Linked DNA regions of Homo sapiens. The protein of the gene in region 1 interacts with the protein of each later gene in a pairwise test. Each region holds a gene or a part of one and is shown on either strand. Other genes may lie near its edges.

The links. Proteins that work in one complex are often made in the same cells at the same time.
Region 2: the proteins of SH3RF1 (region 1) and WIPF1 interact in a two-hybrid assay, tested with the Homo sapiens proteins (one large-scale study listed by BioGRID).
Region 3: the proteins of SH3RF1 (region 1) and SORBS2 interact in a two-hybrid assay, tested with the Homo sapiens proteins (one large-scale study listed by BioGRID).
Region 4: the proteins of SH3RF1 (region 1) and NHSL2 interact in a two-hybrid assay, tested with the Homo sapiens proteins (one large-scale study listed by BioGRID).

What each region holds. Positions count from the first base shown.
Region 1 is NC_000004.12:169,117,457-169,120,956, forward strand, and holds part of SH3RF1 (E3 ubiquitin-protein ligase SH3RF1), read right to left. Parts: coding exon 3,363-3,500; intron 327-3,362; coding exon 67-326; intron 1-66. UniProt on the Homo sapiens protein: Has E3 ubiquitin-protein ligase activity. In the absence of an external substrate, it can catalyze self-ubiquitination. Stimulates ubiquitination of potassium channel KCNJ1, enhancing it's dynamin-dependent and clathrin-independent endocytosis.
Region 2 is NC_000002.12:174,563,305-174,566,804, forward strand, and holds part of WIPF1 (WAS/WASL-interacting protein family member 1), read right to left. Parts: intron 1-3,500. UniProt on the Homo sapiens protein: Plays a role in the reorganization of the actin cytoskeleton. Contributes with NCK1 and GRB2 in the recruitment and activation of WASL.
Region 3 is NC_000004.12:185,620,195-185,623,694, reverse strand, and holds part of SORBS2 (sorbin and SH3 domain-containing protein 2), read left to right. Parts: coding exon 1-781; intron 782-3,500. UniProt on the Homo sapiens protein: Adapter protein that plays a role in the assembling of signaling complexes, being a link between ABL kinases and actin cytoskeleton. Can form complex with ABL1 and CBL, thus promoting ubiquitination and degradation of ABL1.
Region 4 is NC_000023.11:72,141,345-72,144,844, forward strand, and holds part of NHSL2 (NHS-like protein 2), read left to right. Parts: exon of another isoform or gene 1-18; intron 19-887; coding exon 888-1,020; intron 1,021-1,908; coding exon 1,909-2,230; 3' UTR 2,231-3,500.

The DNA of each region.
Region 1 (3,500 bases):
AAAAGATCTACTATTAGGCAGGTAAGCCCTTTATCCTGATATGTTCTGGCCTGGGTTCCTCCTTACCTGTCCTCACAGCATTGCGGGCCTGGTTGACTGTCATTTGCCCCGTCATGTGCAACAAGACCTTAGCCTGAGGACTTGTCTGGATGTGAGCTGCTGATACCACAGCTGCGGGGACAACACTGGGACTCCCAGCCACGCCATTTCCCTGGAGCTTCTGGGCAGGCCCTCCTGCCGTGGAAGGACTGACCATGGTCACTCCCCGACTTGTCTGGCCAGCTGTAGACATAGGGACTTTAGCTTGGGAAGCATTTGTCACCGCCCTGCCAAGACACAAACATAGATGGAAAGCCCAGTCCATCAGCAAAATGACAGAAAGAACAATTAAATGCAAGAAAAATGACTCAGAGCTTTAAACATAGAACATTTTAAAAAATGAATGGAATTATTTTTATAAAGTTTAAGAATAGAAAATTCAACGTAATGATGGCTGAGACAGAGAAAGGTCTTGAAATATATTCTGAGTCACCAGAAACCACACGTCATACTCTGCTCAAGAATATACAGTTATTGCATTCAGCTTTCCATAACAAGACCAAATATCTCCACTGACTTTCAAGGCCCTGGATTCTCCCCCTTCATCTACAGAACAAGCTAGGATCATTCCCTGACAATATCCCCATTTCCATATCTTTGCTCCTGTTTCCTGGCTTCCTACTTGCCTCCAGCTCCACATCACACATGTGCCCATGTACATGCATGCACACACATACACGCACTAGTGGAAAGTCCTCTCCGTCTTCTCTTGACATATTGTAATCTCATTTATGTTTCAAGATCCAGCATGAACACTGTCAGTTCAAGAAGCCTTGCCTCAGATTCAGGTTTAAGATCTTATGATTCTATTGTTTCATGTGGATTTCTTCTTTCATTCTGTTTCTAAACTCCACAATTGTTTATGCTTTGGCCCTTGATTACAAAATGTGGTATATTATTATTAGTAGTAGTAGTATTTTTTTTGAGACAGAGTCTCACTGTTGCCCAGGCTGGAGTGGAGTGGTGCGATCTCAGCTCACCCCTCTGCCTCTCAGGTTCAAGTGATTCTCCTGTCTAAGCCTCCCGAGTAGCTGGGAGTACAGGCACGCGCCACCATGCCCGGCTACTTTTTTGTATTTTTAGTAGAGGTGGGGTTTCACCATGTTGGCCAGGCTGGTCTCGAACTCCTGACCTCAGGTGATCCACCCGCCTCAGCCTCCCAAAGTGCTGGGATTACAGGTTTGAGCCAACGCGCCTAGCTGGTGTATTATTTTTTAAATAAATTCTTTATCAAATACTGCTGACTTGGTAAGTTCCTTGAAAGCAGGGCCAGTGTGAAATAACTCTCCTGTATTCATCCTGTATTTGCACATGCTCAGGGTTACAGCCAACTCTAAACATCTATTTACTCACTGAATGTAATTAAGTTCAGTATAGTTTTGTGTAATGTGTTTTTTTCCATATTCCAAATTCATTTAAATGATAACAATTCTGTATATAGTAACTTTCTACTAAGAAAACACTTCATTAGCTTGAACATCCTTATTATTTACCATGAATGACAGAATTTACTGTAAGCACATATTCCTCTAGAGTTAAACAAACAGATAGATTTTTTTTTTCCTTAGGATGGAGTCTTGCTCTGCCGCCCAGGCTGGAGTGCAGTGGCATGATCTCGGCTCACTGCAGCCTCCGCCTCCCAGGTTCAAGTGATTATCCTGCCTCAACCTCCAAAGTAGCTGGGTCTACAGGCACGTGCCACCATGCCTGGCTAATTTTTGTATTTTTTTTTTTTTTTTTTTTTTTTTTAGTAGAGATGGGGTTTCACCATGTTGGTCAGGCCTCAAGTGATCAACTCCTGACCTCAAGTGATCTGCCCACCTTGGCCTCCTGAAGTGCTGGGATTACAGGCGTGAGCCACTGCACCCGGCTATACAAGCAGAGAGACTTCTAATAATTGGTTTTTGATAAAGATGTTTGACAAAAAAATTTTTATAAAAATGTTTTCCTTCATTAACTTTATTTTTTTGTTCTTTGTTGCATTTCTCTTATCCATTATTATCATTATTTTGCACCAGGGAGGTTCTATCTGTCATTTTCTGGATGGGATGGATTCTGAATGTAGATTTTAACATACATAGAAAAGAATGTTTATATTGATTAAAAATTTGCAAGTCAAATTAAAGTTAACATTCTGTCACCATCTGCAACAACAGTGATTTTCATTTGATTAGGCTGCTGGCCAACCTATAAATCAAGGCCAACAGCTGACAAACATGTCAGTTCATTAAGCTATTTGTTTAAAATCAGGCGGTTTGAGGAAAGATTTAATGCAGTTAGACCTGGACTGTATATTAAACGGCCGGTGGTCAAAAACTAGGGCTCCCTCAGTGTTGATTTCATTACAGGTCATTTAACTGTTTCCAAGGCTTCTTTCCTCAGTGACCAAAAGCTGAACTATCTTTACATAAAATATATAAAATTTTGCATATCTAAAGCTCCTGTCACTCTATAACAGGGTTTCTCAACCTCAGTGACATTTTAGGCCAGATTATGATTATTTTTTGTGGGAGGCTGTCCTATGCATAGGATGTTTCACTCTTAGCCTCTATCCACTAAAGCCAGTAGCACCCCTAACCTCTAGTCGTGACAATCAAAAATATTTCTGGATATTGTCAAATGTTCCCTGGGGAGCAAAACTGCCCTCAGTTGAGAAGGATCTATGCTATACTTAAAATTTTTATTTCTGACTATATTATAGAATTCATTGTCAGAATTCAGAGGTAATTACCAAGTTAATGAAATAAATATAAATCTAGATCACCAGGGTTTGAGTTTGAGCACTTCTTCACTATGTGATCTCAGACAAGCTGTATGATATCTCTGTGCCTCAATGTAACAGCAACTAAGAAGTAAGGTTAATCAGTGTAATGCATTTATAAATCTGCCTGCCTGGCATATAGTACGCATTATATAAACACATAAGTATTAATAATATAGCTTTTCTTTGTATCAACACTATGCCTTTTCTAGTAGAAAAATACTGAAAATGGTGTTGTTGAACCTTCTCCCATTAAAGCAAATAACTTAAAACCCAGTACATTTACTGGTAGAAACCTATAATTTCACATATATCCATGTGAAAATAAGCTAAAAATTTTAGAGTTAGAAGGGATTTTAGCAGATGTAGACATGGATTTTTAAAACCTTGGCTATGTAACAGGCAATTATAATGTGAAAGGAATCTGGATAGGCTGAAAACCATGGAAAAGAACAAAGCTTCTCTGTTTAGAACATAGTAAACAATGTATTCAAAACCATACCTTGTGACTGGTGCCACATAATTGCCAGGGAAAACCCCTATCTTGCTGGTATGCATGGATGTCCCTTTGAACCAGCCATCCTGGCAGCGCTCAAACACTAAAAACATCTCCCCTTTTCTCAGCTCTAGTTCATCCTCT
Region 2 (3,500 bases), on another chromosome or scaffold:
CTCACGCCTGTAACCCCAGCACTTTGAGAGGTTGAGGAGGGATGATGGCTTGAGCTCAGGAGTTTGAGACCAGTCTGGGCAACATAGCAAAACCCTGTCTCCACAAAAATTAGCCGGGCATGTTGGTGTGCGCCTGTCCCATAGTCCCAGCTACCTGGGAGGCTGTGGTGGGAGGATCACCTGAACCTGAGAGGTCGAGGCTGCAATGAGCCAAGATTGCGCCACTGCACTCCAGCCTGGGTGACAGAGTGAGACCCTGTCTCAAAAACAAAATAAAAACCAAAACCAAGCTATTCATGGGCTATCAGTCCACTGTAACTAGGCTTAAAACCCATTCACATAAAAAAAATTCATTTACTACACAAACATTTGTTGAGGATTTAACAGGTGTTTGGCATGAGGTCAGGTGCTCAGATGTTGTGAACAGGTCTAACTGGGGCATGTGTCAATCAGGTAGGTCTGCTCTAACCACTGCTCTGAGACTCAGTGGGCTGGAACTGGCAGATTCCTCAAGTAGGCATCTTGATAGGGACCCTACTGGTCCACTTAGGGATTTCTGAGAAAGAACCAAATTTCTGAGCAAGGAAGGGAGTTAGGAGAAAACACTGAAAGAAGCACCTCTTCCTCTCACCATCCCAACCAAATATTTTCTTGGGCAGGCATCTGAGAAAAGACTCATCTGGATGTAAACCAGACACCTATCATGGGGCCTTGACCATCAACTGACCCGCCACAAGTGGTTAGTAGAATGAGGGCTGGCCTTGTCCAAAGCTGTAATTAGAGGGCACTCCAAGTGCATTCGGTACTGCTCAGGGCTGTCTGGGTGCGCTCTCAGGCTGTGGGCTTGGAGGCTGAGGCTGCTGCAGAGCAGAGGAAAACTTGGTACTCGACGGTGCCTTATTTATTTTTGTTAGATGATCCATTATCATTATAAAATATTAAACATGCCTAATGCTGGAAATATTTAAGGCAAATCTACAAAAAAATTTTGGTAGACTGTGGAAATTAATTCACCAATTTAAAAACTACTTTTAGGCGAGGCATGGTAGCTCATGCCTATAATCCAGTGCTTTGGGAGGTTAAGGCAGGGGACTACTTGAGGCCAGAAGCTCAAGACCAGCCTGGGTGACATAGAGATATCCTGTCTCTATAAGAAAATTTTTAAAAAGAAATACTTGAAAATGCCCTTTATGTTTCAGGCTCTGTGCCCCTCAAGGAAGGTGCAATAGTGAGCAGGACACAGTTCTAGTCCTTACATTGCCTACTCAAGTCTTAAAGGAGGATGGGAGAAGATATATGCTTAGCTATTCCATTAAAGATCTAGAGGGTACAGGGAAGATGGTCTATTACCAATTTAAAAATAGAAATAATATTTAGAATAAGAAGCAAATAATAAGTTAGGAAAAATATTTGGAGTCTATATGAACAACTCCTTAAAGTCAATTCATTTATTGGTGCCCAAGAAGGAAGAAGGGCTGTACTCTTATCAAACAGAAGCCCTTCTTCTGGTGCACACACACACACACACACACACACACACACACACACCATTCAAAGATATCTGTCCCATGTGAAAACTTACTTTTCACTAACACTTTTTTTTTTTTTTTGAGATGGAGTTTCGCTCTCGTTGCCCAGGCTCAAGTGCAATGGCGACTTCTGCTCACCGCAACCTCCACCTCCTGAGTTCAAGCAATTCTCCTGCCTCAGCCTCCTGAGTAGCTGGGATTACACGCATGCGCCCCTATGCCCGGCTAATTTTGTATTTTTAGTAGAGACAGGTTTTCTCCATGTTGGTCAGGCTAGTCTCGAACTCCTGACCTCAGGTGATCTGCCCACCTCAGCCTCCCAAAGTGCTGGGATTACAGGCGTGAGCCACCGTGCCTGGCCTTCACTAAAAATTTCAATCATCAACTCTTGTATAATAATTTTATTATAGCTATACTTCTTCATTAGGTATTGTCTATGAATGCAGTCTTCCACAGAAACAAATCTTTTCAGGAATTAAAGTTTTCCTTTTAAGCAGTAGTATTCTGTTTTCTTCTAGCATTTGTCCATGGAAATTTTCCTATATTTTCTAACTCTTTAAATTTTTCTACAGAGGCACAAAGCACAGTTTGACTCAATTAATTTAATTCCATTTAACCCAATAGAAATTCAACCCAACAGAAACATCTGGTGTTGTCCTGCGCTGTGACACACAGCACAGCCATGTTCCTGTCTCCTCCTCTGACCTGGGACTGCCATCTGTCACTTCTCTCCCATGTCAGTGATTTTGCTTCTCACCAGTCTTAACTTTAGCTGTTATTAATCTCCTATAAGGTTTGGAACCAACCAACCAAAAATTACTTTAAACTGTGTTAGGAAAGAATCAGTAGGCTTTGAGTACATGTAAGGTGCTCTGTTAGGGAGTGGGGCCATCGCTAGGGGTGTTGTGACATATTTGACTTGTTTGCTTAAGTTTTCTCTATTTCTGGTTTGGGAATTTGGCTCTGAGGCTAAGGCTGCCACGAACCTCAGCCTCATGGATGACATATGCATATTTCATGCTAATTCTTTCTTCGTTGTATACATTTTTTTTTATTTTTATTTTTTTTGAGATGAAGTCTCGCTCTGTCGCCCAGGCTGGAGTGCAATGGCGCAATCTCAGCTCAGTGCAACCTCTGCATCCCGGGTTCTAGTGATTCTCCTGCCTCAGCCTCCTGAGTAGCTGGGATTACAGGCACACACCACCATGCCCAGCTAATTTTTGTATTTTTATATTTTTAGTAGAGATGGGGTTTCACCATGTTGGTCAGGCTGGTCTCGAACTCCTGACCTCGTGATCCGCCCACCTCAGCCTCCCAAAGTGCTGGGATTACAGGCGTGAGCCACCATGCCCAGCTATTGTGTTTTTTTAAAAGTAAATTTCAGAGGCTTTCCAGCAAAACCCTGGAAAGCCTGCTAGACAAATTCTCAAAGAGCTGTAACACTTCCTATACATTTACTGTTATAAAATTCCAGTTTGTCTATTTTTCCTTTCTTGTTGACATTCTTCTTCAATGGAGGAAAAGCAATTTAGTTCTTTATGGTAGCATTACCTACATTAGCAGAACAACAGAAATAATTTAAATGTCCATGGTAATGGTAAATTACTATATGCTGAAATAAAAACCATGTGATAACATGGGCACTATTTACTAAGCAATGTTATGTAAACCCCGCCAAAAAACTGTACATCGTCATTATAACTACATAAAAAAACAGAATTATATGGATAAAAAATTGGATGAGAATCTGGTAAAATGAAAATATCTATTATGTGGAGAGATTATGGATATATTTACATTTTCATGTAATGCTCTGTAAAGCTATGATTACAATACGTTTAAAAGATCAAGGCAGTTAAAGGGAGTTTTTGTTATAATTAATCAGACATTATGCCAATTTCAAAACTAGAAGGAATAGAAGATGGCTCTACTTGTGCTGTCTCAGGAAGATGAAAACAGAGGAAGACGTCC
Region 3 (3,500 bases), about 17 Mb from region 1:
GCCCTGGTGCCCATTCACATTGAAGTCACCAGCGATGAGCAGCCCCGAGCACACGTGGAGTTTTCCGACAGCGACCAGGACGGGGTTGTGTCCGACCACAGTGACTACATTCACCTAGAGGGGTCATCCTTCTGCAGTGAAAGTGACTTTGATCACTTTTCCTTCACATCCTCCGAAAGCTTTTACGGATCCAGCCACCACCACCACCATCACCACCACCACCACCACCGCCACCTCATCAGCTCCTGCAAAGGCAGGTGCCCGGCCTCCTACACTCGATTTACCACAATGTTAAAACACGAAAGAGCCAGACACGAAAACACCGAGGAGCCCAGAAGGCAAGAAATGGACCCTGGCCTTTCTAAACTTGCTTTTCTAGTCAGTCCTGTGCCTTTCCGGAGGAAAAAAAATTCGGCTCCTAAGAAACAGACTGAAAAGGCAAAATGTAAAGCATCTGTGTTTGAGGCTCTGGACTCTGCCCTTAAAGACATCTGTGACCAAATTAAAGCTGAAAAGAAAAGGGGGAGCTTGCCGGACAACAGCATCCTGCACCGCCTCATCAGTGAGCTGCTGCCAGATGTTCCCGAGAGGAACTCATCCCTGAGAGCGCTGAGGAGGAGCCCCCTGCACCAGCCTCTCCACCCACTGCCTCCCGATGGTGCTATTCATTGTCCACCCTACCAGAATGACTGCGGGAGAATGCCCCGCAGTGCCTCTTTCCAAGACGTGGACACAGCCAACAGCAGCTGCCACCACCAAGACCGTGGCGGTGCACTCCAAGGTGGATGAGCTTTTCTTTCTTTTTCCTTGTGGTTCAGAGACCCACCCTCCAGCTCTTTCATTTTCCATTCCAACATCTCATCACTCCCGAGCTGGGAGACCATTTGGCGTCGTTATGTGTTGTGAAGCAAAAACTTGTTGTGCAAATATGTCTTACTGAATATTTCTCATTTGCCCATGTGATATTTGGACTTGATGTGTGGCTTAAAGTGATCATCAATTCACAAAAATTTACTCTTTCGAAAACGAGAGGGAAGGCCATTTTGTAGCTCAGCATTAGGGTTGAAACAACCACTACTCACATTGAGACAATAAATTACGTTGTGACATGAATCAAAACCTATAGTTCCACAAATAGCCTTTTAAAAATGTTTATATTAACGTTAAAACTTTATATTCATTCAGTTAATAAATAATTTGTCACATTCTATATAGAAGATACTATATCAAAACATTCAAGAAGCAAAACTGAAATATGTGATTAGTAATTGATGGACACAAAGAAATTAGGGTTTGTTTAATAGCTTTCTCCATTTCAAGGACACAATGGTGATAAAATTTTTGTGAATGTATCTTTAAGCTATATATATAAAAGTCCCATTTCCACCATTTAGTGTATTCATTTTCTCTTTTCCATTACTTAATTCATTCACTTTCTCTTTCTGCTAAAACAGTCCTGTATTGAAATTTGAATTACACTATTCAGGCTAACAGTGACTCTAAACTCTATTTTCATAGATAACTTTGAAGTGGCAACACAAGAATAAATAGCAATTGAAAGGCAGAGGACTATTTTTGAGATTTATATAACTTACAGCCCAGGGTGTTTTAATATTTGTGACCAATTATTTTCATTAATTCTTACAGCACATCTGTTCACTACGTAAATTTTAAGAGGCTGGAATGAACATTCCGGGCTGAAAGTTGGTCAACAGAGAAACTTCTATGCACCAGACACTACAGAGTGCTTTACATACATTATCTAATAAAACTGGCATAGGCCTATGAAATGGGTGTTATTTCAAAAGCCATTTTCAATTTTGGAAGTTGGGCCCAGAGAGGAAAGGAAATTCGTCCAAGGTCACACAGAGAGTAGATAACAGAAAAGAGATTCAAACCCCTAATAATTCAGAATTTATAGTATAAAATATAATCTCAGACAAAAAAAAAGACATAATTCACAGTTCATACTAGTGTCAAATATGGCTCGATTGTTAATTAACTTGCACAAATCTACTTAGTCTTTATGTTTGCTTTCACTTTTGCTACACTATACACTTACGTTTATCTTTGCCTACCCTTAGGCTGAAGCAACATGCTTCAAAATAATAAATTAGAATTTAAAAAATCAATTTCTACAATTCAAAATTTTCACTAATTGAAATGTGTCAGAATCTCATTTTTTAATAAATTAGCTACCTTCTCCAGGCTTTTAATATCCTAATATAACCATCTCTCAATTTTATGTGCAGATAGGAGTACATTTTTGAAACGTAACTTGGAAGGGCTTTGAAATGCATTTAAAAGTATTTTGTTTTTTAGTAAAATATTTACTTTCCAATTGTGTTTCACCCAAGTGAAAAATAGCTTATATTCCCTGGGTTAGAAAAAGTAATTTAAAATTTATGATCATTATGAGGCCCTATGATCATAAAAGTATATTAACTTAGAATTTACATCATCAAAGTAGTCAAAATCCTAAAACAATGTTTTCTTATTATGAATCAGCACTTTAAATTCTTTCATAGATGGATAAAATAAATTTTATTTTTAATGCTTCTTGTTAGTCTGGATAACTAGATATATTTAAGGGATAAAAGAAAGAATTGACAAATATTGACCCAGTTGTACTGATAAAATTCTATAACATAGACTACTGGAATACATTTAATGTCTAGTTACATCTCCATATGTAAGTCACGTAAGTGCAAAAGGTATAAGATACTATTAAGAACTACATGCAATCAAAATTTTGTAATGTGATTATTTATGCTTTGCTTTAAGATGAACAAAAATAATTCAATATTTCATAAGCAATTTGGCAACTGACATGATGCTTTCTGTTTATCCCTTTTTTGCTTGGAGTAAGAAGAAACAATATCTCTTTGTTTCTTTGCTTTCTGATAAGGTGTTTATCATCTGGGCACAAAGGAAGGTCGTAGATAAACAGCATGGCATCTTGAGATTCAATAAGTATTTAAAAACAGAGGAAGAGCGAAGAGGGGAGAGTAAGGCAGAAGGAGAATGTTCATCACCACCCTCCTGTCATCCTCATACTTTCTTTGGTTTTATCTCTTTCTTTTTCATTACTACAGTCTTAAATTACTCCACAAAATGTTTCTTTTTCTACAAATTGTTGCTATTTTCAAATTCTCCATCCTCTGTAAATCTTATAATAGTAATTATAAATAAGAAGCAAAGGCATAGAAACAGAAAGCTTTGGAAAAAATTTATATGAAAAATCCCTCTAACTATAAATTGTCTTACTGGGTGTGGCAATATAATTAATCAGCAATGTAGTAATCATATTTATATAGACAATTATAATTCTGCAACCTCAGATATTTTTCCTTTTGAAATGCTCTTGTTTTGTGTCTTATTTCACAACTTTGTAATGAACTATGAGTTTTATGCCCATGTGTTCGATAACGGTGTCTCTCCAAATTTGGGGAAAAAAGTAGTGGCCACCAGGGAAAATGGCGGAACAGGTTGGCTTGTAA
Region 4 (3,500 bases), on another chromosome or scaffold:
TAATGCTTCTCATCCTTTCTTTTTCTGTCTCTTTTTGTTTTAATTGTGGTAAAGTACCCATAACATTTACCATCTTGACCATTTTTAAGTGTGCAGTTCATTCGTGTTAAGCACATTCACATTGTTAAGCAACCAATCTCCCGAACTCCTTTCATCTTGCAAAACTGAAACTCTGTACCCAGTAAACAACAACTCCTCCTTCTCCCTCCCCGCAGATTCCTCCCTCCAACCACCATTCTACTTTCTGTCTCTATGAATTTGACTCTAGACACCTCATATAAGTGGAATCATACAGTATTTGTCTTTTTGTGACTGGCTTATTCCACTAAGCTTAATGTTGTCAGGGTTCATCCATGTTTCTCATTCTTTTCTGAACCCTTAACACCAAAAATCAAAATCTCATGGCCTTCTATATGCAAATTTGGACTTTCAATATGAGTCAATTATGACTAAGTCAAGTAAATAAATCAAAGCCCCAGGTAGTTGTAGAAAACACTTCCTCAGACTCCACAGGCTCCCCTCTGAGATTCAAATAGGTTCCACTCTCACCCACTGGGTGGGAGTCACTAGTTTAGATCACTCCCAGCTCCTTCATTTGGAGAAATGATATACAGTGTTTAAAACAAGAGAATGCTCGGGCCACCTGTTATAATGACAAAGACATGACAGAATAGGGACCCACGCTGATCTTCACCACTCACTCCACCTTGGGCAAATCATTAAGCTTCTGAACTTCATATTCCTCCTCTGCAAAATGGAGGTATTAAAAATCTCCACCCTGCTGCCCTCACAGAGTTGCTTTCACCATCAAATGAAATAACATATGAGAATGTGCTTTGTCCTATCTACTGTGGTCAAAGTCATTCCTTTTGGTTTTTTATGTCTAGGGAGTTCTGTGGAACCAGGCACCGAAGAAAAAAGTTTAATCAGTGATAAAACAGCTGAATGGATTGCAGAGGATGATGATGACGTGTTTGTGGCTTCACGCACAACTGAAGATTTATTTACTGTGATACACAGGTCTGCACCAATTTCCTTAATTCTAATTGCAATTGCCTTCCCTTTTTGTACTTAAAGAAAACCTGCTATTCCACATTGAAATCCTAATTGTAAAAGAAAAAGAAAAAAATTAAAAATAAGAAAAACTGCTACCTTTAAGCAGCCATTAGAATTGCACCTGGAGGCTAAGTTCAGATACCCACATATGTGAGCGCAGTCCAGGGCCTCGCATCTCAAATTCACTGACATCGTTGGGTAAAGTGGAGGAAGGGAGGGGAGAGGAGGACCAGGTGCCGAGTGAGAGGCCCCTCGTCTCCTAGCAACCACTTGGCCTATTGTGGCTCCATCTGCTCTCTCTTAGCTCTGTCTATAGTCAGAGACATTTAACCCTTCACAGAATTCCTTGTATCAAAAAAATCCCATCAAGAGTTGAAGTGGGGCACCAGGCAGCATATCAAAACAGGAACTTAGGAAAAGAGGAACCAGATGGGGACCAGTTATTGGACAGGGTTACAAGGCAGGGGTTCAGTGACAAGAAAACTGGGAAGAGTTTATTATTGGAGCTAGACCACCAGTCCAGAACAGGATCAGTCCCCAGGCTGTCCTGATTCAGAGTCACTGAGCTACTAGCCTTGACTCCTGAAATTCGTCCTTGGTCCCAGAACCTGGGCAGGACTGAGGCTACAGGCACAGGACAAGTGACTCCAGCTGGGGGCATTGAAAGGAATATGGGGACGGGAGGGCCCAACAAGGGACTCTGAGGATTTAGAGGTGAGAGAGAGAGAAAGCAGGTCAATACGGCTGCTTGCAGGGCTGCCGCCTGGATTGTGTCACAGGCATGGGGGTCTGTGAAGCACTGGTAAATGTCTGCTGCATTAACTCACTCAGACCAAACTTTCTCTTATCTAGGTCCAAAAGGAAGCTGCTCGGCTGGAAGGAACCTGGTGAGGCCTTTGTGGGTGGCAGAACGAGTTCCCACTCACCAATAAAGAACACAGCTGAGTCTCCAATCAGTGAGTCTACCGCCACTGCAGGGTCAGGCAGCAGTGCCAACCTAGATGCTGGCAGAAATGACGATTTCAAGGCCTTGCTACAGAAGAAGGGAAGTAAGGCAACTCCAAGGTCTCGTCCCTCAGCAGCTGAACTTCTGAAGACCACTAACCCACTGGCTCGGAGAATTATTGCACAATTTTCAAAAGACTATGAAACCACCGATAACCCCAGTACCTAAGCCCTGGGCTCAACAAGCAGGGTTTACTTACTAAACTTGAGTAGAGAAGGGGGAAGAGAAAGGGTCTTTAAACAGAACCATGGGAACAACAGAGCCTACATTTCTTTTATATTAACTCACACTCTGGACAGCAGGAGAGAGGCTACTTCATCTAGAGCTAAAATCATCTGGCACTTAATCATCTTCAGACATTTTTATGTTTTCATACTTATAAGCTTGTCATGACTGACTACCGAGTTTCTTCTTATTTTCCCCCAGTGGTGTGCACTAACTAAGAAGAAATTTTCAGATGTCAGGGCACATGTGCCACTTTTTCAATTCAGTGACCCGGCTGCTCCATCCCTGGCTCCTGTCACTGAGGAGTGCAGTGTGAGAGCAGATTGGAGGCTGCCAAACTTGGGGGGCATAGGGTGCCATTGCTTATTATTCACTTTCCTAGGGAGGCTCTGATGGCCCTGTGTGCAAACACAGAAAGACTCTGATGCCTCCTCAACCACAGTTTAGCTTTCCCCTGCGCTCACAAGAGGTTTGCAGGGTGCACTTATTTCGGCATGAGGTTGATTGGATGGCTTTTGTGGTGCAAAATATGACTGTGACTCTGTCCTGAAACTTAATGCCTTTTTCAGTTTGATTGTCTACATGGAGATCAGGGTGATAAGTTTCAATAAACATATAGACGCCCCCCCACCCACCCCCATTAGCTAGAAAAGACCAGGACTGGGTTGCTTTAAATGAACCAAGCTTGACCAACAAACAAGACAGCCATTTGTTCACTCAGATCTAGCCGAGGTAACTCACAAGTGCACCTTGAGATCCTCCATGTGTCTGTCAACAGCGATAGGCAGGATCTGCGCCCAGCTCATGCTGCATTCTAAGAACTCTCATTTCATTTGCATATAAAATTCATTACAGGAAGTAATTAACTGAAGGAACAGCATCATCAAAGGCTCAAGGATAATGGAAAGTAAGTGCATCTTGCCCCCCACCAGTCAATTCAGATCGTGGTTTGTGGTTGGTTTGGTTTTGTTTAAAGGAAGTCCGACTCTGTTCCAAAAACCAAGAACATATAAACTAAAAGGATCTATCCAAAATCTAAAAGGCAGTCTTGCCAGTTGCTATGGCCCATAATGCACACACACACACACACACACACACACACACACACACACACAAAAGGGCTACTTTTTGCCATTTAGGTTCTGTGTTTGACCAGCTTTCAATTAACCTTGCTGGGGGAGAGCATAAGAACCTGGGTAAATGGCATACTGAA